7 linked regions of the Homo sapiens genome follow. The protein of the gene in region 1 purifies or fractionates together with the protein of each later gene. This does not show direct contact. Each region holds a gene or a part of one and is shown on either strand. Other genes may lie near its edges. The genes, in order: STAT5B, TPM1, SNX3, TPM4, AARS1, DDR1 and TOM1L1.

The links.
Region 2: the proteins of STAT5B (region 1) and TPM1 purify together in Homo sapiens (affinity purification with mass spectrometry; one large-scale study listed by BioGRID and IntAct). This does not show direct contact.
Region 3: the proteins of STAT5B (region 1) and SNX3 purify together in Homo sapiens (affinity purification with mass spectrometry; one large-scale study listed by BioGRID and IntAct). This does not show direct contact.
Region 4: the proteins of STAT5B (region 1) and TPM4 purify together in Homo sapiens (affinity purification with mass spectrometry; one large-scale study listed by BioGRID and IntAct). This does not show direct contact.
Region 5: the proteins of STAT5B (region 1) and AARS1 fractionate together in Homo sapiens (co-fractionation; one large-scale study listed by BioGRID). This does not show direct contact.
Region 6: the proteins of STAT5B (region 1) and DDR1 purify together in Homo sapiens (pull-down; one large-scale study listed by IntAct). This does not show direct contact.
Region 7: the proteins of STAT5B (region 1) and TOM1L1 fractionate together in Homo sapiens (co-fractionation; one large-scale study listed by BioGRID). This does not show direct contact.

What each region holds. Positions count from the first base shown.
Region 1 is NC_000017.11:42,201,035-42,203,391, forward strand, and holds part of STAT5B (signal transducer and activator of transcription 5B), read right to left. Parts: intron 1,775-2,357; coding exon 1,723-1,774; intron 1,414-1,722; coding exon 1,306-1,413; intron 831-1,305; coding exon 704-830; 3' UTR 1-703. UniProt on the Homo sapiens protein: Carries out a dual function: signal transduction and activation of transcription. Mediates cellular responses to the cytokine KITLG/SCF and other growth factors. Binds to the GAS element and activates PRL-induced transcription.
Region 2 is NC_000015.10:63,049,247-63,052,746, reverse strand, and holds part of TPM1 (tropomyosin alpha-1 chain), read right to left. Parts: exon of another isoform or gene 3,360-3,500; intron 2,701-3,359; exon of another isoform or gene 2,606-2,700; intron 1-2,605. UniProt on the Homo sapiens protein: Binds to actin filaments in muscle and non-muscle cells. Plays a central role, in association with the troponin complex, in the calcium dependent regulation of vertebrate striated muscle contraction.
Region 3 is NC_000006.12:108,216,041-108,219,540, forward strand, and holds part of SNX3 (sorting nexin-3), read right to left. Parts: intron 1-3,500. UniProt on the Homo sapiens protein: Phosphoinositide-binding protein required for multivesicular body formation. Specifically binds phosphatidylinositol 3-phosphate (PtdIns(P3)).
Region 4 is NC_000019.10:16,096,995-16,100,494, forward strand, and holds part of TPM4 (tropomyosin alpha-4 chain), read left to right. Parts: intron 1-3,500. UniProt on the Homo sapiens protein: Binds to actin filaments in muscle and non-muscle cells. Plays a central role, in association with the troponin complex, in the calcium dependent regulation of vertebrate striated muscle contraction.
Region 5 is NC_000016.10:70,262,007-70,265,506, forward strand, and holds part of AARS1 (alanine--tRNA ligase, cytoplasmic), read right to left. Parts: intron 3,097-3,500; coding exon 2,952-3,096; intron 519-2,951; coding exon 340-518; intron 1-339. UniProt on the Homo sapiens protein: Catalyzes the attachment of alanine to tRNA(Ala) in a two-step reaction: alanine is first activated by ATP to form Ala-AMP and then transferred to the acceptor end of tRNA(Ala). Also edits incorrectly charged tRNA(Ala) via its editing domain.
Region 6 is NC_000006.12:30,891,019-30,894,518, reverse strand, and holds part of DDR1 (epithelial discoidin domain-containing receptor 1 isoform 2 precursor), read right to left. Parts: coding exon 3,399-3,500; intron 3,140-3,398; coding exon 3,040-3,139; intron 2,518-3,039; coding exon 2,331-2,517; intron 2,224-2,330; coding exon 1,977-2,223; intron 1,452-1,976; coding exon 1,356-1,451; intron 1,248-1,355; coding exon 1,096-1,247; intron 14-1,095; coding exon 1-13. UniProt on the Homo sapiens protein: Tyrosine kinase that functions as a cell surface receptor for fibrillar collagen and regulates cell attachment to the extracellular matrix, remodeling of the extracellular matrix, cell migration, differentiation, survival and cell proliferation.
Region 7 is NC_000017.11:54,907,352-54,910,851, reverse strand, and holds part of TOM1L1 (TOM1-like protein 1), read right to left. Parts: intron 1-3,500. UniProt on the Homo sapiens protein: Probable adapter protein involved in signaling pathways. Interacts with the SH2 and SH3 domains of various signaling proteins when it is phosphorylated. May promote FYN activation, possibly by disrupting intramolecular SH3-dependent interactions.

The sequences.
Region 1 (2,357 bases):
GGGCGGGCAGGAGGGGAGAGAGGACAAAGAGAGAATAAGATGAGCTAAATGTTTTGTGAAAAGCCACCGCCCATCCGAAAGCTTGTGACTTCCCTTGCCCCAACAATCTTTGTAGGTTGCCCCTTTTCCCATTCCTACCCAAGAACACAGGGGTGGGGGAGAGGGAAGGCTCTCTTTGTCAAAAAGCAGTTATCTACATTTCAGAAGAAAAGCAGAGACAATCACGGTTATATATCAATTGCTTGGCAGACAGAGTGACGAAGACTCACTGGAGCACATGTGCTTTCTCCTCCCTTTGTCCTTCTCTTATTCAAACAGCCACATGTCAAAGTCCAGCCACTCTTAAGACACATGGCCAACTTCCAGGCTTCACGAAACTCACTGCCTTTTTGCACAAAGTAAAAACCACCACAGCTTCTGTCTGTGGCCCCTCTGCTACAACTAAACTCTCAGACAGTGAGAGGGAGAAACACCATAACGTGCAAACACGCACACACACACACACACACACACACACACAAACACATACTCGCACTCCCTTCGCTGGTGCCACCATGCACAGAAACACTAAGGTCACAACTAGTATTAACACTTCACATTATGAGTATTGTTTCAAAAGAGAAGCGATTCATGGAATTAAAACATCCACAAGAGTGATTCCTCTGGTGAAGATGAAGAAGCTGAAGATGGAGAGGTCGCGGGGTCACGATTGTGCGTGCGGGATCCACTGACTGTCCATTGGCCGGCCCAGGAGCTCCTCCACACGCCGCGCTACGTCCATTGTGTCCTCCAGATCGAAGTCCCCATCGGTGTCAAGGACTGAGTCAGGGCTTGGGAGGGAAAGAAGAGGGATGAAGGGAAGGGGAAAGCCTGCCAGAGACCACCCCAAGCCCCACAGGCCACCAGGGGAGCAGTCTGAGCCAGCCTATGCCCTCAGCCTGGGGCTTCATGGGAAAAGAACAACCATTCAAACAGCTGGCTGTACAGCAACTCAGACTGAAATACCCTCCCCTGTTACCTCTCACACCGGCTGTCCAGACACATCACAACTCCACTCAGTCCTTAGAGCAAGAAAAATCTCCATATTGAGAGAGGGGAACAGATGACATTTGCCCAACCCGACTCTAAACCACCAATCACTTCTGGTCAAATCTCTCCCTCCCAAAGGCCAGAGCCCGGGCCAGGGCTGTGTGGTCTCAGACCTAGAGGAGCTCTGGATTCCTTTGACCCCAGCCCTCCAGGGGTCCAGCCTGGGGCCAAGCCCCCAGTTCCTCCCCTGTGGACCCCCACAAGAATGCCACCTACTTCTGTGGGTACATGTTATAGTGAGCCTGGGGACACACAGCTGGGGAGGGGGCCTGGTCCATGTACGTGGCGCTGCCGCCCCCGGCATCTGCAGATGCGTTCACAAACCTGCAGAAGGAAGAGAACAGAGCTTCAGCTGCCAGGGAGGCCAGGGCAGCTGACTTGGGGAGGGGACCAAGGGGTATCTTTGTCTTTCTCAGGGTGTAGAAGGACAAAGTGCCCCACTCGGCCCTGGGGCTCCAGCTACAGGAGTGGGGCCTCAGGTACTGGCATAGCATCACCAAGCCCAGGTCCTTCCCCAGGGCTGAGACAGTTTCCCCGGGGGAGCGGAAAGCTGGGCCAGGATAAGGATGGGAGGCAGGGTCTGGGGGAGGAGGAAAGAGGCAGAAGGAGAGCCACAGCCACCTGGACACTTACTCAGGGACCACTTGCTTGATCTGTGGCTTCACGTATCCATCAACAGCTTTAGCTGCCAAGGGAAGAATGTAGTAAATCAAAGTTCTCAAGTGAAACAAAAATGTGATCTTCCTTATGAATCACATCTTTTCTTAGGACAGAACACAACCACCTAACTTATCTAAGGATATGACACAAGCACTTAATATTTTTTTGTTTTGTTTTTTGAAACAGTCTCACTCTCTCATCCAGGCTGGAGTACGGTGGTGCAATCTCGGCTCACTGCAGCCTCCGCCTCCCAGGTTCAAATGATTCCGATGCCTCAGCCTCCTGAGTAGCTGGATTACAGGTACACCACCACACTTTGGCTAATTTTTGTATTTTTAGTAGAGATGGGGTTTCACCATGTCACCCAGGCTGTTTTCTAACTCCTGACCTCAAGTTATCTGCCCACCTTGGCCCCCCAAGGTGCTGGGATTACAGGCATAAGCCACCGCACTTGGCCAAGCATTTAATATTTCAATCTGTTAGGAAGACCTGGTAGAGGAGAAGGTCAGCACTAAAACTGAAATTCAAGATATCTTCCAAATTGGCTTGGATGTTTCAATAAATTCTTCAAACCATGGAAACTATGTACTTCAATACAAATCTAAGTC
Region 2 (3,500 bases), on another chromosome or scaffold:
TTTCTAAGGTTCTTTTCATCATGGCACCTGGGGAGTCTTAAGGACCTGCTGTTGCCTCTGCCGGTACAAGCCCATAGACACATGACCATCTGTTATCTAAAAGCAGAGATATAAATAACAAGGCATTTGGGGAGGGTCAAGACCCCAGACACAAATTATTTGCAGGCATGTAAATCACTCTTAGTGTACTGAGTTAGCTTTCTTCTTCTTCTTCTTTTTTCTTTGAGATGGAGTCTAGCTCTGTCTCCCAGGCTGGAGTGCAGTGGCATGACCTCGGCTCACTGCAACCTCCACCTCCCGGGTTCAAGCGATTCTCCTGCCTCAGCCTCCCCAGTAGCTAGGATTACAGGCACGTGACACCATGCTCGGCTAATTGCTGTATTTTTAGTAGAGATGGGATTTTGCCATGTTGGCTAGGCTAGTCTCGAACTGCTGACCTCAGGTGATCCACCCGTCTCGGCCGCCCAAAGTGTTGGGATTACAGGCATGAGCCACTGCACCCAGCCAAGTTAGCTTTCTTCTAACAGCAGCCCATGTGCTGACTGCCAGTGAAGTCTTTCAATCTGGGATGCTAGTTTCTTTTATTTCAAAAGTGCTATTGTGTTCTAACAATGAACTACTCAAAAAAGAGACTGCTGTATTAGTAAAGGCTACCAATGTCCTCCTGCAGATGTTTTTAAGTAACTTCCTGGTGCTCTGTACTTGAGGTGCCTTACAATGCATATGACCCTCCTCTAAGGGCATGCACCCCATTCCCCCACCCCAACATGGTACTATATAGAAATCAAGGGCATGCCCACCCCACCATAGTATAATATTATCCCAAATCAGATTTGAAAAAAAAAAAAAAAAACAACTTTTATGAGGCCTAGATTTTCATGAAATCCAGATGTTTTAGCCAATACAACAACAGAAAATTAAAAATGGCAGTGACTTTTACTTTTTAAAAAAGTATTCCAGTTAAGGTTATTAAGAAAAAATACTGGTGGGAGAATATTATAATCTAGAAATCAATCCTCTGGAATATGTTTCCAAAGTCCTGACTGAACTGGAGTGGAACTTGGGATGATCAAAGGTCAGGTCTTTTTATTTCATGCAAACTGTAGTTATACGAAGAAGGTTTCACCCAACTTGCTGTGTAAGGCCAAGTGACCACAGCCAAGCTAAACTTCTGCCCTTATATGGTAAGGAAAGGGGGGAAAAAAAAAAACACTGATGACATTAAGGGGCACTCCCATGGATAACAGATAAACACAACCTCCTGTGTGTGCCAAAGCCCATAATTTATGAAGCATATTTGTATAATGAGGGAGAACAGACATGAACAAGGCATTGTAGTGCCTCTGCCTTGCCTACATATGAAAGCGGAAATCGAGAGTATACATTCCAGTTAACAGCCACTCTGGGAGTGCCAATGCAAGCACAAAATGCACCCTCGGTTTTCCTATCCCGGAAATACTTACCAAGTGTAAAGAGGGAAAGTGCTGGGAATTTTTGTAAATTGGTTATTTCCCATGATTTAATCATGTTACTAATTAAGAACCTTCTGGCCACAACTCCCTGTCTCCTTGTTTGCTGGATACTACTCAGAAAGGAAGATTCATCCTGCCTTTTTCTTTAAATAATGAAAAAAAGCAAACATAACCCTAGTGGGTCACAAGATCTGGAATCAATCATGTCAAGCAAAGTAGCCTCATTCCAACATTTTGAAGGATCCACACACCTTGGAAACACAGACTAGGAGGAAGTAAGGGATGGCTGCTTTTTCCAAGGTAAGGGCTGGTTTAATAGGGCCTATTAATTACAGTCTGAGTATTTGAATTTAGGCCAACTCTCTGGTCAAATATTTTTTGCAGTGGCTCATGGTTTTGTCACTAAACCTTTATCTTTGCTGCCAAAAGAAACTGTTACTGCTAGCTTAACTCACAGCCCAAGCTACATCTAAATACCTAAGTCAGCTACATTTAAGTTCCAATTTCAGAAGTTAGGAACAACTTGCAGCCTGAAAGTCTCTCTTCAATGGTCTGATCCAGTCTTCAAGTTGCTGTCTTAAAAGGTTCTGTGTTCAATCAATCACCCAGGTAGATTGTTTGCAAAGATTACTTAAAAAAATTGAAACTACTTAAACTACTTTTGATATAAAGCCGTGAAAAGAACGAAAGTACTATCTTTAGCCAACTGGCACAGGAAGAGTTCTGTTATAAAAACGACGTGCAAAAGAGAAGGTAAGAATAAAAGTAATAATGTGCCCTTCATAAAATTTATCTTTTGTGTCTAACATCAATCACTAGGCCAGGAGCCAATACAAGGCTCTCCTGCATAGGGTCACACATACTCTTTCTTAGCAGGGTGAGGAGACCTCAGACTTCTACCACTGATACCACTTTAACCCATCAAACATGCCTACCAGCCCGCCCACTTCCTCTTCATTCAAGCCCCCCGCCCCAACAAATGTTGATTAAAAGCAGTAAATGAAGTGTTTTATGATGTCATGAAATGAGCAGGCCATCTTTAAGACCTCTTGCTGGGTGGGGAACTGAAGGTGAAGGAGCACTGGGCTGCCAGGGCTGTGCAGTTTTAATGACAGCGGGCACACAGCACTTACCCTTTTGCGCCAAGCATCAGTGTACTGTCTTTACATAGTAACTCCTTTAACCGACAGGTAGATGCTGTTACTATCCACACTTTACACACAGGGAACTGAAACACAGAGATTAAGTAACTTGCCCACTGCTAGTAAGTAGTGGAGACAGGATTCAAGTTCTGACAGTCTGGGTCCAAAGTTCTTGTTTTTATCCATCATATTCTATATAGTTCTAATGGTTCAAGGACAGCTACTAGCGAGTAAGGGAGTCGGAATTAGTTTACCACCCAGCCAAGTTCAGGGATATCCACAGGACTTTTGCTGACTCGTCCTATAAAGCAAATACTGAGAATTATCTTTTGCCTATTAATTTCCTTATTCCTGCTTGTATTTTATCTGAAACTTTCTCTAGTTGAGCTTTCCTCTGAAGAGGACCATTTCAGGTCTTGAAGTTTCTGTGGCCAGCCATACAGCCATTTACAAACACTTAACTAGAACGATTTACTCAACTCAGAACAACCCCGTATATTAAGCACAGCAGGACATCATACTATCAATTGTCATAAAACTCCCAAGGTGTTTGTTTCAGTATCTTCATTAAAAACACACACACACAAAATCGACAAATATCCAATACTAGACTACCTCTGAAATCCTGTTCGTGTTTGCTGGATACATTTGCCTTAGAAGAAAGGAAGGAAGCCAGGTATTACATTTAACAAGGGGGAGGGGAAGCCCGCAAGAGAATACACCCAATAACTGTTGACATTTCGCCAACTTTTTCCAAGACTTGGTAACAAAGCATTATCTATCTGTATGAGAGAAAAGGGGAGGAGGACTGCTGAAAAAAGGGACGGGTTAAGGGTTTTGCACTATAGTTTAGCTCTTCCAGCAGAACGCGGCGCTGTCAAGCTGT
Region 3 (3,500 bases), on another chromosome or scaffold:
AGAATCAGATAAGTTTTGTACTGGGGGGCTTTCTTGTGCATTCTTTTCTTTCTTGAGATGGGGTCTTGCTCTGTCACCCAGGCTGGAGTTCCGTGGTGCGATCATGGCTCGCTGCAGCCTCCCCCAGACTCAGATGATCCTCCTGCATCAGCCTCCCAAATAGCCGGGACACTACAGGTACATAGCGTGCTACCACGCCTGGCTAATTTTTCTATTTTTTGTGGAGATGGTGTTTCACTGTGTTGGCCAGGCTGGCATTCTTTTCTTTAGCAGCATCCCTAGCCTCTGCCCACTAGACAACATAGCACCCCCAGCTGAGACAATAAAAAATGTCTCTAGACAGTGTCAAACGTCTCCTGGGGGATAAAACTGCCTTTGGTGGAAAACCATCAATCTATCATACTAATGTCTTCAAATCAAGACCCCTGTCTTAGGCTTCTTGTGGTTATTTTAAGAAAAACTGGGCATACAACAGAAGCTCAAATATCTGTTAAATGACCAACCACTTAGCTGGATCCTTACTTTAAACGCAAACAGAGAAATGTGTAAGCAAACAATCAGAACAAGGAGAAATATATATAGTAAACTGATACATATTTTTCTTTTCACCAATAATACAAATTACACATATTCAAAAAAATTAAAACTTTAAACCCTTGATATAGTTTCTACAACGAGTTGTTTATCCTCAAACAAAATTCAATAGGGTAAAAAAGGGAAAGAGCAACTCGACTTCATATAGATTAACAAAAAACAAAATAAAAACAAAAAAACCAAATGTCCAAATAAACTTTATAATCCCTTCCTAGATTTACTCTCCTCAGATGACCAATGATGAAGATATCTATGGATTTGTCTCCGTAAATTTATGCTAGCATTCTCAGATCTCACCCCCATGTTAACATCTGTTTAGTTGAGAGTTAAAATCTGCAGGGACCTTCTATAACTGAGAAACAAAGGAATGCTAACCATTACGTTCCAGTAGAATGGCTATCTGGTGGGCAGGGAAAAATATCTGTATCTACACAATTATTATTTAAAAAAAGAATTCTGGAACCACTGTGTTAAATAAATGACCACCATTAATTCAGGGTAGAATTTAGCATGAAACTTAAGAAAAGGATAGCTCAAGGATGTCAGTTAAAGAAAGAAGGAAAATGATAAAAAATGTAACAATATATATATAATTAAATATATATAAATTTCATATATAATGGGAATTTAAGAAAAGGATAGCTATGCATTATCCTCTGTAGAGATACACTCTTCCTAACATATTCAAACTAGTCATTCAAATGGATGGGGAGGTGGTAGGCAACAGGATTAATGATCTATAAAAATCATAAATGGCTCATCCAGCTAAGATTCTCTTCTACATCAAATTATTTTTGCTGAAGCAGTCTGAAAACACCTAACTGGAATTCTAACACCAGGTTGGGTGCGGTAGCTCACATATGTAATCCCAGCACTTCAGGAGGCCAAGGTGGGTGGATCACCTGAGGTCAGAAGTTCAAGACCAGCCTGGCCAACATGGTGAAACCCTGTGTCTACTAAAAATACAAAAAATTAGCCGGGCATGGTGGTGCATGCTTGTAACCCCTTTACTCAGGAGGCTGAGGAGAATTGCTTGAGCCTGGGAGGCAGAGATTGCAGTAAGCCGGGACTGCACCACGGTACTCCAGCCTGGGCGAGAGCTAGACACCGTCTCAAAAAAAAAAAAAAAAAATTCTAATACTAATTAAAAAGTCATGAATGCAAAGATATGTGCGTGCATGTGGGGTGAGAAATAGGAGAATATCTGGTGAGCACAATATATTGAAAGCTAAAGCAAACTAGAATAAAAGCTAAAAGATCTGACCATAATACATGTCAGCTAATTTCTAGCTTAGTTTAACAGATCTTAGTTAAAAGTACTAATATACCACAAAATAACTTGATTACATTGTTCTTTGCAATACTGTAATACGAGTAAAACTTTCACATGGATTTAACTCTCAATATATTTAACTGGTCTAATGTTAAATGTGAAGTATTGTGCTTCAAAGGACAACATCAAGAAAGTGAAAAACAACCCAGAGACTGGGAGATATGTGCAAATTATGTATCTGATAGGGAACTCTAAGAGTCTTATATATTCTCGACATAACTCTATAATAAAAAGATGAACCCATTGAAAAAGGCAAAAGCTCTCAATAAAGATGTCTCCAAAGAAGATACATAAATGACCAGTAAGTATATGAAAAGAAAATCAACATTAGTGGCCATTAGAGAAATAAAAATCAAAACCACAATGCAATACCCCTTCACAAACAGTAGGATAGCTATAATAAAGAAGACAGGCAATTGGTAAGGATGTGGAGAAAAGTAGAACCTCACATTGCTGGTAAGAATGTAAAATTACACAGCTGCTTTGGAAAAACGGTCTGCCAATTCCTCAAAAGGTTAAAAAGAGTTATGACCCAGCAATGTACTGGTAGGTATATACTGAAAAGAAATGAAAACACATGCAGACAGAAACCTATGCACAAATGTTCACAGCAGCACTACCAATAACAGCCAAAAAGTAGAACAAAATGTCCACCAAATAAGTGTATAAATAAGATGTGGTATAAGCATACAATAGGATATTATTTAGGAATAAAAAGAAATGAAGTAATTGATGCATGTTAGAAAAGCATGAACTGTGAAAACATGTTAAGTGAAAGAAGCCAGACACAAAAGATCACATATTGTGGGCTTCCATTTACATATGCCCAGAATGGGCAAATCCACAGAGAAAGGAGACTAGCAGGTGGTTGCCATAGGCTGAGTGAGGAAGGGTTGGGGAGAAATCAGTGGTGTCTACTAATGGGGACAGGGTTTCTTTTATTGGGTGATAAAAATGCTCTAAAATTGACTAGTGCTCTAAAATAGTGATGGTTGCACAACTCTGTGAACATATTAAAAACCAGTGAATTATACACTTTAAATGGGTGAATTGCATGGTATGTGAATTATATCTCAATAAAGCTGTTACTAAAAACAAAAGCGGTCGGGCGGGGTGGCTCACGCCTGTAATCCCAGCACTTCGGGAGGCCAAGGCGGGCGGATCACAAGGCCAGGAGATCGAGACCGTCTTGCTAACACGGTGAAACCCCGTCTCTACTAAAAATTTTTAAAAAATGAATAAATAAATTTACAAAAAAAAGCAAAATATACACTCAGCAAACGTTTATTAAACATTTCCAGTGTGCCACATGGTATGTCAAGCAAAGCCCAAAGCCTATGTATCAAGACACTTCTCAGCTAGGTGTGGTGGCTCATGCCTGTAATCCCAGCACTTTGGGAGGCCAAGGCAGGAGGATTACTTGAGGCCAGGAATTCAAGACCAGCCTGGGCAACATAGTGAAGCCTCATCCTTACAAAAAATTTTTTAAAATTAGCTGGACATGGTGGCTCATGCCTGTAGTCCCAGCTACTTGGGAGGCTGAGGCAGGAAAATCACTTGAGACCAGGAGTTG
Region 4 (3,500 bases), on another chromosome or scaffold:
CCGGGCTGGAGTGCAGTGGCGCCATCTTGGCTCACTGCAACCTCCGCCTCCTGGGTTCAAGTGATTCTCATGCCTCAGCCTCCCGAGTAGCTGGGATTACAGTCGCGGACCACCACACTCAGCTAATTTTTGTACTTTCAGTAGAGATGGGGTTTCACCATGTTAGCTAGGCTGGTCTGAAACTCCTGGCCTCAACTGATCCGCCCACCTCAGCTTCCAAAAATGCTGGGATTACAGGCGTGAGCCACTTTGCCCGGCCCAGGCTATGCTTTGCTTTTTTTTTTCTTCTTTCTTTTTGAGACGGAGTTTCGCTCTTGTTGCCCACGCTGGAGTGCAGTGGCGCCATCTCTGCTCACTGCAACCTCTGCCTCACGGGTTCAAGCAATTCTCCTGCCTCAGCCTCCCAAGTAGCTGGGACTACAGGCATGCGCCACCATGCCTGGCTAATTTTGTATTTTTAGTAGAGACAGGGTTTCACCATGTTGGCCAGGCTGGTTTTGAACCCCTGACCTCAGGTGATCCACCCGCCTCGGCCTCCCAAAGTGCTGGGATTACAGGTGTGAGCCACTGCACCTGGCCCAAGCTATGCTTTTCTAATGATCAAAAACATACCAATTTGTCCCAAAATTTCAAATAGTGCATCTGGTTCTCCCCTGCATCCTACCACCACTACCACCTCAAATTATCACAGATAATTGACATTTAGATGTTCAAGCCACATCTTCCAGACTACCCCTTGAACCTGGAAATGGCATGAAAATCTCCAACTAGATCCTGAATTTTCGGTATCCATTGTTATTCCTCATCCTATTTTTTTGTCCAGGTGGGAAGCTCTGTCCCCATTACTCTCTCTATTCATCCATTCCTCCAAAATGCACCTCCCCTAAACCACCTCCACCTTTCCACCCTCAGCCTCTCCCTGCTCCTAACTGCCGTCCATCCTGAACTTCTGCAAAAACCATTCCCCTCACACATTGCCATATATATGCCCTTGGAAAGATTACAGACTGTGTAGGGGGCTGGTTTTTGTTTGGAGTCTGTGTGTTTGTCCCTGGAATTTCTCCAGGCATTTCTGGACTCCACCCTTTGAAGTAACTATGCAGCCTGTCTATCCAGTTATTCTACCTAACTAAGCACATAAGTGGAATTTCAGAGATTAGTGCTATGGCCGGGCACGGTGGCTCACGCCTGTAATCCCAACACTTTGGGAGGCCAAGGCAGGCAGGTCACTTGAGGTCAGAAGTTCAGGACCAACCTGGTCAACATGGTGAAACTCTGTCTCTACTAAAAATGCAAAAATTAGCCGGGCATGGTCATGGGGGCCTGTAATCCCAGCTACTGGGGAGGCTGAGGTGGGAAAATCAATCACTTGAACCTGGGAGGCGGAGCTTGCTGTGAGCCAAGGTCGAACCTTTGTACTCCAGCCTGGGCGACAGAGTGAGACTCCGCCTCAAAAAAAAAGAAAAGAAAAGAAAAGAGATTAGCACTATGGAGGTCTACACTATCTGTTGATAGTCTGTGAGCCTTGTCGTGATTCTCAAGGGCAGTTAACACTTTCAGGGAAAGTCATTTTATCTCAGACCTAATAACAAAATAGATGCTAAAGCATCTGAGTGACAAGATGAAGCGAAGTCAGGATTTGTAGTCAAGAGACCAGGGTTTAAGGCCTGGCGCAGTGGCTCACACTTGTAATCCCAGCACTTTGGGAGGCCAAGGCAGGCGGATCACTTGAGCTCAGGAGTTTGAGACCAATCTGGGCAATATGGCAAGACCCCATCTCTAAAATTATTCATAATAATATTTTATTTTTAAAAAATTTTTTAATAAAATAATAAATAAAGAGACCAGGATTTAAAATCCTAGCTCTACTACTTTAACCATGCCAACGTGAACAAGCTGCTTAGGTTTTCTGCAAAATAAAGGTGATATCTCTGTTATGAGGATTAAATGAGATAATGGAGAAACTGGCTCGTCCAACATAGTCAGCATTCAGTTAACATCTATTCACCCAGACTGGATAGGCCCAGGTCACTGATCTGTCTGATAGAATCCTCCCAGGTCATAGTCACTTGACTCTGTGTGTGTGTGTGTGTGTGTGTGTGTGTGATGGAGTCCCACTCTGTCACCCAGGCTGGAGGGCAGTGACGCAATCTCGGCTCACTGCAGTGTCCGCCTCCCGGGTTCAAGTGATTCTCCTGCCTCAGCCTCCTGTGTAGCTGGGATTACAGGTGTGCGCCACCACACCCGGCTAATTTTTTGTATTTTTAAGTAGAGATGGGGTTTCGCCATGTTGGCCAGGCTGGTCTCGAACTCCTTACATCAAGGATCCATGGTGTCTCATGCCAGTAATCCCAGCACTTTGGGAGGCCGAGGTGGGTGGATTGCATGAGACCAGCTTGGGCAACATGGCGAAACCCCATCTCTACTAAAAATACAAGAATTGGCTGGGTGTAGTGGCACGCACTTGTAGTCCCAGCTACTTGGGAGGCTGAGGTAGAAGGATCACTTGAGCCCAGGAGGTCAAGGCTGCAGTGAGCTATGATCATGCCACTGCACTCCAGCCTGGGCAACAGAGCAAGACCCTGTTTAAAAATAAATAAATAAGAAAGGCTGCCATCTTCTGCAGTCATTTTTTTCTTTCTGTAAATTTCCAGGCTGATGATATCACATTTTATGAGGCATTTTGCTTTCCCCCAGCATTTTAATGAGTCTTGGCCTTGTCCCTTATCAGCCATCACTTACTGCAAACTAAGTTCTCTCTCGTGCTCTGTCACGCATAGCTCTAAATGGCGTCTTTTTTCTCTCTCTCTTTCTTTTTTAATTTAAATTGTTTCATCAGCTCAGTTACTTAATAACATGCCTGTAGAATGGCTTAAATTTCGCATTTACCTGGGGTTTGTCTCCGTTCTCCTGGATTCATAGACAGTTACACAATTATGTGTATAATTTAAACAGCCATTCCCAGAAGCTCCGAAGGAAAGATGGGTTACAGGATTTTAGATTTAACTATCAAAGGCTCAGGGGCTAATTAACTAGCACTTGGGTGGAAATTTATATTAAGTCACACATATCTAGGACTGAAATCTTCATGTAGCAGCACGTCATAGGTTCTGAAGTATTTCTCCTTTATTCCTCATCATAACCCCCACACCACGCATTGATATCGTTACCCCCATTTGACAGACGGGGAAAACAGACCTAGGAAGGTTAGATGCTTACTTAAGTGATACAACTGGAGCTTAAGTTCAGGTATTCTGACTCAAGGGTTACCAGAGTTCACAAGGAAAAATACAGGACACCAACTTAAATCTGAGTTTCAGATAAGCAATGAATAATTTTTTAATCATAAGTATATCTCTTGCATAAGTACATCTCATGCAACATTTGGGATATACTTACACTAAAATATTATTTGTGGTTTATCTGAAATTCAATTTAACTGGGCGCCCTGCATTTTATCTTACAACTGTGACTCCCAAATTTGGTGCTTGTTCCTTAGT
Region 5 (3,500 bases), on another chromosome or scaffold:
AAGCCTAGGGAGACAAAGTAACTCATTCAGCAGCGGCAGAGCTCGAGGCTGAGTTTTCTACAAGGACATCTCCCCTTCAGAGAGCTGCCTCTCCTTTTTAATGTGCAAAGCTTGTAGGAAACTTGTACCCTGGCTGCAAAAATACTCCTACGAGGGTACCCGATGGCCAGGAAAGCAACAGGTACAAGCAACAGCTCCCTCGGCTTCAGAAATACCATGGAACCCAACCCAAAGGTGTGTCAGGTCTGCTCCCAAGGCCTGGAGCACTGTGGGGCAAAAGCAGCTCCCCGGCTCCACGCCTGGCCCTCCTCGGCTAACAAGGAAGAACTGTTGGCTCACATCTTCACTGCTGTCATCCACCTTCACCAGGTAGCCTTCGTCATAGATCTGGCCTCCTTGCTCAGCATAGAAACAGGTCTTGTCCAGCACCACTCCACACTCCTGGCCTGTGGACACCTCTTCCACGAACATCTTCTCCCTGCGCAGAGCCATCACCGTAGCCACTGTGTTCTCAAATACTGCTCAAGGGAAATGCATAGAAAGGGGACAGTGGGGTCAATGACCTTTTCACTCCTTCTTGGCTGACTTTTGCTGGATTCTCTTTCGCAAACTCTTCTTAGCTCCTAATTGTCCAATTGTATTTTGGAAGCAAACTCATTAGACAATATGAAAGGGCTTCGCGGCCGGGCGCGGTGGCTCCCCCTATAATCCCAGCACTTTGGGAGGTCGAGGCAGGCGGATCACGGGGTCAAGAGATCGAGACCATCCTGGCTAACACGCTGAAACCCTGTCTCTACCAAAAATACAAAACATTAGCCGGGTGTGGTGGCGGGCACCTGTAGTCCCAGCTACTCAGGAGGCTGAGGCAGAAGAATGGCGTGAACCCAGGAGGCGGAGCTTGCAGTGAGCCGAGATTGTGCCACTCCACTCCAGCCTGGGTGACAAAGCAAGACTCGGTCTCAAAAAAAAAAAAAAAAAAAAAAAAAAAAAAACAACAACAACAAAGGGCTTCGCATGCTGGCTTTCCATCAAAGAATGCAACACTCTGTCGGGTGACCAACTGTCCCAATTTTTAGGACTGAGGGGTTTCCTGGGATGCAGGCTTCAGTGTTAAAACTGGGACAATGGGTTACCCTAACTCTGAGCTACTGAACAGAAACTTGGTGCATCAGATTAGTAGATCTTTAAGAGTAGTAATAAATTCCCTAGTCCAAGGTCAACTCACAAAGAATGTACTCATTTTGTAGGCTTGCTTGAATAGATTTAGGTGTAAGATTGTTCTCAGCCGGGCACGGTGGCTCACACCTGTCATCCTGGCACTTTGTGAGGCTGAGACGGGTGGATAACCTGAGCTCAGCAGTTTGAGACCAGCCTGGCCAACACGGTGAAACCCCGTGTCCACTACAATACAAAAATTAGCCAGGTGTGGTGGCACATGCCTGTAATCCCAGTTAATTGGGAGGCTGAGGCAGGAGAATCACTTCAAGCTGGGAGGCAGAAGTTGCAGTGAGCCGAGAATGCGCCACTGCACTCCAGCCTGGGTGACAGAGCGAAACTCCATCTCAAAAAAAAAAAAAAGATTGTTCTCTACCAGGGCAAAAAAGCTGCAAAAACATGTATTGCCAATTTATTTTTATGTTTTTTTTGAGACAGGGTCTCACTCTGTAGCCCAGGCTGGAGTGCAGTGGCACAAATATGGCTGACTGCAGCCTCTCAATCTCCCAGGCTCAAGTGATCCTCCTGCCTCAGCCCCACAAATAGCTGGGACTACAGGCATGCGCCACCACACCTAGCTAATTTTTGTATTTCTGGTAGAGACAGGGTTTCGCCATGTTGCCCAGACTGGTCTCAAACACCAGAGCTCAACTGATCAGCCCACCCTGGCATCCCGAAGTGCTGGGATTACAGGCATGAGTCATTGCACTGGCTTTGTTTCTTAACTTTAGAATACTATTATCCGGTCGGGCGAGATGGCTTACGCCTGTAATCCCAGCACTTTGGGAGGCCAAGGCAGGCAGATCATGAGGTCAGGAGTTTGAGACCTGCCTGGCAAACATGGTGAAACCCTGTCTCTACTAAAAACACAAAAATCAGCCGGGTGTGGTGGTGCGTGGCTGTAATCCCAGCTACTTGGGAGGCTGAGGCCGGAGAATCGCTTGAACCCAGGAGGTGGAGGTTGCAGTGAGCCGAGATCACACTATTGCACTCCAGCCTGGGCAACAGAGGGAGATTCCATCTCAGAAAAAAAAAAGAATGCTATTAGGATAATAGCATTCTAACAGCATTAGGATAATAGAATCCTAATAGCATTCTTTTTCTTTTTCCCCGAGACGGAATTTCACTCTTGTTGTCCAGGCTGGAGTGCAATGGCATGATCTTGGCTCACTGCAACCTCTGCCTCCCAGGTTCAGGCGATTCTCCTGCCTCAGCCTCCCGAGTAGCTGGGATTACAGGGGCACGCCACCACGCCCGGCTAATTTCCGTATTTTTAGTAGAGATGGGGTTTCATCATGTTGGTCAGGCTGGTCTCAAACTCCTGACCTTAGGTGATCCACCTGCCCCGGCCTCCCAAAGTGTTGGGATTACAGGTGTGAGGCACAGCGCCAGGCCCCTAATAGCATTCTGATAGTCACTGTGGATTGTATCAATGTCAATTGCCCAGTTTCCTGCATGATGTTACAATTAGGGGAAACTGGATAAAAGGGTGTGAGACCCTTCCTACAAATTTTTTTTTTTTACAACTTCCTGTGACAATAATTATTTCAAAATAGAGTTAAGAAAACCTCCAGCCAAGGGTGCCTATGTGTATAAAAGTGCATAGCGTGACTGTACGGCACTCCAGGAGAGGCTGTCAGCAGTCTGCTGGAGAGCTAATCTTGAGAAACAATCTTTCAAATACCCCCCAGATACGGGGCAGAATGCTCAGATGTGGAAGGAGCACAGCAACATACCATAGCTACCACTGGAGTCCAAATGGTAATTGTACTTTGGGGAATCATCTGTGACCTCCAGACCCCGTGCCCGGAGCTCTTCGATAGCGTAAATGTCCAGCATAATGAGGTCTTCCCCACCAGCTCCCTTGCCCTGTGATTTCAGCTGTCAGCAAGAGAAACAAGCATAAGTTACCGTAAAGTAGGAGAAAAGGGACTCCAAAGGACTGGAACTTGCTAAACTATGCCCAGCATAAACTGCCAGAACAGGGTTTTTCAATCCTGGCACTACTGACATTTGGGGCCAGATCATTCTCTGTTGTGGAAACTTCTCTTGCAGTGTGGGATGCTGAGGGGCACCCTGGCCTCTACCAAGTACGTGACAGCAGGATCTGCCCCTAGTTGTGAAAATCAAAAATGTCTTCAGACATTATCGCCAATTACTCCCTGGAAGGCAGACTCGCCCCCACTTGAGAACCACTGATCTAGGGGAAAAAGCACTTCAAAGACTTTAATGGAAGGAAACTCATGCTCAGTCTGCAGCCAAGTGGTGCTGGGTTGGAAGGTGTT
Region 6 (3,500 bases), on another chromosome or scaffold:
CCCTCCGTTCAGCCTTGTCATAGGGATGGGAGGCATCACCCGTGTTGCTCAGCACACACGGCCTGGCCCTCTGCTGTGTCCATCCCTGCGTTCCCTCCCTCAGCCCTCACAAGAGCCCTACAGCTGTGGATACTATCAGCACCATCTTACAGGCAGAGAAAGTGAAGCTCAAGAGCATGGAGGTAACTTCCCTGTCCCACAATGAGATTCTAACCCTCATCTGCCCAGTCCATAACTATCAACCGTTTTTTTTTTGTTTGTTTGTTTTTTTGAGATGGAATTTTGCTCTTGTCGCCCAGGCTGAAGTGAAATGGCATGATCTCAGCTCACTGCAACCTTCGCCTCCCAGGTTCAAGAGATTCATGCCTCAGCCTCCTGAGTAGCTGGGATTACAGGCATCAGCCACCATGCCTGGCTAATTTTGTATTCTTAGTAGAGATGGGATTTCACCATGTTGGTCAGGCTGGTCTCGAACTCTTGACCTCAGGTGATCCTCCCGCCTCGGCCTCCCAAAGTGCTAGGATTACAGGCATGAGCCACCGTGTCCAGTCATCAACCTTAATGTACATTACTGCCACTGGACTCCAGCCGGAAGACGTGGCTTGGGGTGTGCCAGACGTCTTCCCTTTGCCCCTCCAACCCCACTCTCTGCCTGTCTCTACCCTGCTTCTGCCCCAAGGCTGACCAGTGTACACTGCACCAACAGGCCTGGTTTGGGTTAGCCAGAGAGGAGCCCAGCAGGAGTTTGGGGCAGAAAGTGAGGTCAGGGCATCTATTCTCCCAGGCCCTCCCTGAGGGGTAGATACGGGCCAGCTGCATCCCAGGACCAAAGTCTACTGCCCCTGTCAAGGTGCCCTCTCCACAGGCTCTCTCCTCTGGGTCGTGGTATTTGCTCCTCTCCGCTGAGCAGACCCAGAGCTGGGGAGCAGCCCTCCCTGTGAGCCCCATACCCTCTTTGACATGGTGTAAGTGGTCTCTTTACTAAGCCCTCCTCTTGGGATGCTAGTGGGCTGTGCCCTGCAGGTCCCACTGGACGCTGGCTCGTGCTGGGGCCTGGCCTCCCCCCGCCACTCCACATGCCACGGCTGTGCCCACCTTGCTGAGGAGCCTGCGCCAGTGCAGCCGCCAGAGCATGAGGGCAATGATGAGCAGCAGGAGCAGGATGATGGCCACCAGGCAGCCGATGAGGATGGCGGTCGGGCTCCCCTCGGCCTTGGCCACGGGCTGCTGGCCTCTGGGCTCCAGCTCTGGTGGAGGCAGCAGGGTCAGCACCACAGGAGGGTCCCACCCTAGCCGAGGGGGAGGCCCAGGGAGAAGGGTGCAGAGGGTCCACACGCCCACCCAAGATTGCTCACCCAAGCTGCTGAAGTTGGTGGGAGGTGGGCCAGGCGGCCACCAGGGGGCTGGCGGGAAGGTGCCTCCCAGTGCCGGAGAGGAATTGTTCACCACATCTGGGGAGAAGGAACAAAAAGAAAGGAGGGAGGTAAATGAGGAGGAGACCCAAGGGAGGCAGAGGCAGTGGACTGTTGTGCAAAGGAGCAGAAGCATGGGTGATTCTCAATAGGCAACCACTGACCAGTGGGGGCTGGGGGAGCAGGGTCCTGGAACACCCAGCTGTGGTGGGTGTTAACCCTATAGTTGCTGGATTGTGGGGAGGTGGAGGACAGGTATCTGGAGGCTTAGAGAAGAGGCTATTTCTCAACTAATACAGAAGTATTTCAATATTTTAACAACCAGTACTGTCATACTGGCTCAATAATAGTCACGGGCAAGGGGCTTACAAAGGAAAGATGGATACGCAGAGAACAAGAGGCAGAAAGGGGCTCAAGTTATTTGGGGCACCCCTAATTGAGAAGTTTCGGTGGGTGATGGGTAGATATAATGCAAGGAATGAGTATTTTAGGGACACTGCAGGGTTAGGAATGAAATCAGTTGTCAATTTCAGGGACTGGAGACTGGGCTACTCCAGGGCTTACCAGAGATGAAGGAGATTTCGCTGAAGAGTAACCAGGGCCCCGCAAAGAGGAAGCGGCACTGCAGAAAGCGAGCCACACGGCCGCCAAGGGGCACTGAGACAGCCCGGGCTCTGGGGTCCCCCAGGTTGCCCCCTAGGTTGTGGCGCATGGGCTCCCCCTCCCAGGCCATGGCAGGGCCACGCCGGAAGCGACATTCCACCCCGCCAGGCAGACGGGCTCCCAGCGTGTGCATGTTGTTACAGTGGACCTGGGGGGAAGGGAAGAGGGCACAGGGTCAAGGCTAGGAGTGGTGGGGGCACCCCAACGGCACCCTGCATGGCTTCAGAGCCCTCCTCGAGAGCCGGACTCACTCACCTGCATAGCCTGGAAGGCCCTCAGCCGGTCAAACTCAAACTCCATCTCCACATAGCCACTGGAGAAGCTGTGGTTGCTCCATCCCACATAGTCATAGCCTGGCCAGACCCGCAGCTCCTGACTCTTCCTAAAGTCATCCAGCCCCACCACACCATCTGCCAGCTGGCCCAGACCCCCATACTGCAGTCTGGAGAAGAGGGGACCAAGGAAGAGGAGGTTGGAAGGGAAGAGGGTCTTGACATCCAGGCATTCTGCTCCGCCACCCTCCGGCACAGTGGCATGGCCAGCCTGGCTCCCATCCACTAGTCCCATTCCCATCCCACCTCACACTCATGCAGCTGGCCCTTCTCCTCTCTCCACCCCACCCCAGCACTACAGGTACCTTGCAGGTCACATCCAGCACAAAGGCACCACCTCTAAGGGGCACCATTTCAATCTATGATGTGTATATTTATTGCAGCAATTTCCAACAATGTGTGTTAGCAAAGGGGTGCCTTTTTCATACAGTGTCATACGGGCTAGTGGTCACCCTAGTGCTACCCTTTGAGGCCCCACCTAACCCATCCCTCTTCTCAGCTCTTCCATCTCACTCCCCACCCTACTTACCAGCCCCCCTACACACACACACTCTCACACACACACACACACACACACACACACAGTCCTCCCTCCCACCCCAAACTCCATATCCTGCAGGGGCCTTTCTTACCCGCCCACGGTATGTCCGTCATAGGTGGAGTCGTTGAGGTACACGGCCTCAGATAAATACATTGTCTGCCCCACAGGGGCGGTGTAAGACAGGAGTCCATCTGGGGCAGGGTGAGAGGATGGGGGTCAGAGGCACTAAGGCTCCATCCCCCATCCCTGCATCAGGCCTGGGCAGGTTTCAGGTCCCTTCTTGTATCTCTCCACTGGCTCATTGGCATGGAGGAGACAATGCTGGCTAGCCCCCTCCTCAGAGTGACAGCTTCCCAGCAGGAGAAGGGATCCTGGATGCCCATTCTCCACACTCCCCACCCTCCAGTCCCCTGCTCAGGAAACAGATTCCCAGGAAGCTGAGCCACTCACCCCTCCAGAGGCAGCCATAGAGCTCTACCCGCAGACAGACGCTCATGACCCGGTCAGCCCGGGGGTAGAAGCGAACCAGTCGGGCAACCATGGGGGGCCCAA
Region 7 (3,500 bases), about 13 Mb from region 1:
GTTATACTTAAAACGCTATAGTTTTAAGGCACTGTGACCAAGAAATAATCAGAAAATATAGAAACATGCAGCTGTGTGAAACACAGGGAAAACCTTTAAGGCAAAGAAAAATAAAAACAAAATCCAAAACATATTAAGATGAATCTGTACAGTTTGGTGAGACAAAGTTGGAAAGTTGAATAACATGCCATTTAGCTTGATGGATTATTATAATGAATTTTTAACGGGCGAAATCCTAAAAGGAAAAGTGCTTCTAGCTCAATGTGAGTTTACAGAAATATTTCACCTAACTAGTTGTACCGTCTTACGCAAATACCTAGCCTCCAAGTCTCACTCTCCCTAGGTGTATTTCTTGCTAAATAATTCGCAAACCAATTTTTGTTTGTTTGTTTGTTTGAGACAGGGTCTCACTCTGTCACCTAGGCTGGAGTGCAGTGGCGCAATCTCGACTCACTGCAACCTCTGCCTCTCCGGTTCAGGTGATTCTCATGCCTCGGCTTCCCAAGTAGCTGAGATTACAGGCGTGCACCACCATGCCCAGCTAATTTTTGTATTTTTAGTAGACATGGGTTTTCGCCATACTGGCCAGGCTGGTCTCAAACTCCTAGCCTCAAGTGATCCATCCACCCCGGCCTCCCAAAGTGCTGGGATTACAGGCATGAACCACTGCACCTGGCCCTCACAAACTAATTTTTATCTTTGGTGCCACAAGATTTTATGATAATGGGTAAGACTCCCAGGAGGTACATGCACAAAATCAAAGAGTCAACATGAAATGCTAAAAATGTGAACATCTGGAGATTAGCAGTCATGCCTTTTGTGTTTTCCCATTAGAATCAAGAATGTCAGGACTAATTAATTCTACATCACCTCCTCTATTATGTCACCAGAACCTCTTTCACCCTCCAACTCACTCAGATAAGTAATAAAACCTACGTGGCAAATTGGAAAAATTAAATATGTTTTCACATATTCTGAAATTGAACTTTGATGCAAATGTGTTCAGATAACCCATCTTTCGAAATAAGACAAATAAGAATCCATAATCTGAGGTGGGATTGAAAACTCAGGAGCCAAGGAACAAAGACTGAAGTGGGTGACTCCAGGCTTCACTGATCTTTTGGGCTTGGCTGGGCAAATCACTTATCCTAAGCTTCAGTGTCCTTATCTGCAAAATGGACATAATATCTCCCTCTAGAGACTTGTTGTAAGGCCCAAATGAAACATAACAAAGAGCCTGCCACAAAGCAGGACCTCAATACATGGCAACTATTTAGATCATCTTCCATGGAGAACTTCCTAGCAGGAGTGAATGTGATGATTAGCTGATCTAAGTATTTTAAGAGAGGGCTGGAAGAAAAAGAGGTAGTTGACAGTTTTCTCACTGTAAATTTCCAAACCAGGCAGAGTGACAACAACCAGGTTTCAGGGCCATCAGAGCTACACCTGGGCCGTGAATAGTGCCTACACCAAGGTGACTACCCCACTCTATGATGACACCCCTAGGACAGGCCTCAGTCTTCTCACTCCCTCCAACTGCAACAAGCTCCTGGGGGGACAACCACATGGTTTTGTTTTGCTTTGTTTTGCTTGGATACAGAGTCTCGCTTTGTCACCCAGGCTGGAGTGCACTGGCACAATCTAGGCTCACTGCAACCTCCGCCTCCTGGGTTCAAGCAATTTTCCTGCCTCAGCCTCCCGAGTAGCTGGGATTACAGTCACATGCCACCATGACTGGCTAGTTTTTGTATTTTCAGTAGAGACAGGGTATTACCATGTTGCCCAGGCTGGTCTCTAACTCCTGACCTGAAGTGATCTACCCTCCTCGGCCTCCCAAAGTGCTGGGATTACAGGCATGAGCCACTGCACCCAGCCTGATATTTTGTTTCACTGGTAAATTTGCCAAAGGAGAATAAACCAAGCTTTTTCTTCATTATTATTTTCAACCACATTTTACACATTTTATGAAACCCCTGAAGCTCACTGCTTAGGGGGTGCTCCACAAAGGCCTATTAACTAATTGATTCTCAGGAACCTGTTCGACCACTTTCCATTTGACAATAATAGTAGCCTCTTGCTGAGATTTATCACAATTGACTCATTCAAGAACAGAATACTCTCTGGCTCAGAGTAATAAAGCCTGGTAACAAAATTCTGCTGAAACACAAAACAAAACTGCTCCACCGACTGATGGTAGGAAATCATAGTACAGTCAGGTTCCGTCAAAGCCCAATCAAGGCTAACACGTCCACGGAGAACTCAACATGACAGATAACATAAAGAATATTTATAATCGAATTTGACAGGCTCTCATCACTTTACATTAATAAAATGGAAATGTCATATATAGGGATTACATTTTAAAGAGTTTACTGGTAAACTTATAATTGCTTTTGACAGACATAGGTGACTCCTGTGACTAATTTCCCTCATAATTAAATTTGGCTTACGTGAATATTAAAGTCAGTTCTGAGGCCTTAAGCATACCTCTGCAAGGCAGTGAGTAGTCTGAGACGAGGTGACTAGACCATTAAATACACAACTCAGGGAAATCAGCATGAAGATATGAAGAGTCAAAGGCCTATTTAAAGAAAATCCAAGGAAAAGCCAGATGTTTTTCCTGACTTTAATGTACTGTGACCCCAAGGATGAAGGTGTATTCTGACCTATGACTTGTGACTCTTGCCTGTTTTTAGGCACAGGCTTTAGATTGGACAGAAACCACGAGGTAAGGGAGCTACAGATCTGAGGTGGAACAGATAATGGGAAAGGCAGCGAGCAGATTAGACTACCTGATGAGAAGGAAGAGTGGAAGCCCAAAGAGAAACAGAGGGCCAGAGGCACAACACTCTGGAATAGCCCAACTTCCTCAAGGAGGGTCCCTGGTCCGTCGTCACAGGGAGGGAACCATGATGGAAGAAGATATGGAGGTGGGATTAAGAAGCAACCACTGAAACATCAAGTAGGCTGGGCACAATGGAGAAAGCGGCAAATTGTTATGAATGGTGAACACCTGTAAAAAGCAAAATAATAATACCCCATGCTGAAATAGAGAAGGGGGCATAAATTCATCTTCTGCCCTTCTCTTCCTTACTCAATTCTCCTAACCTTTGGCACCCTTGAGATATCCCAGATATACTATATTTGAGGGTACATCTACACATCTTTCTACTCCGGTTCTACAGTACCTTCCATTAGCCCTTGAGTCTTCCCGGATACTAGGAGAGACGGGATTAGGTGTGTGTATGAGGGTGGGGTGCTTAATCATTAATCCAGTCAACATCTGATATACCTGGCCCTGTACTACACAGGAAGAAACTAAAGACATAAAGGAAACACAGTAGCCTACTCTTTTAAGAGGCTTGATTCGTTCTTAGAAACAAAGTGGCATGAGGCAAGGGCATGGAATTTAGAATCTGAGGACTGGGATCAAATCTTGCCTATGCTATGTAATAGCCATTTTCATCTCGGAAATAAATCTGTTTCTGTTAGTCTCAATT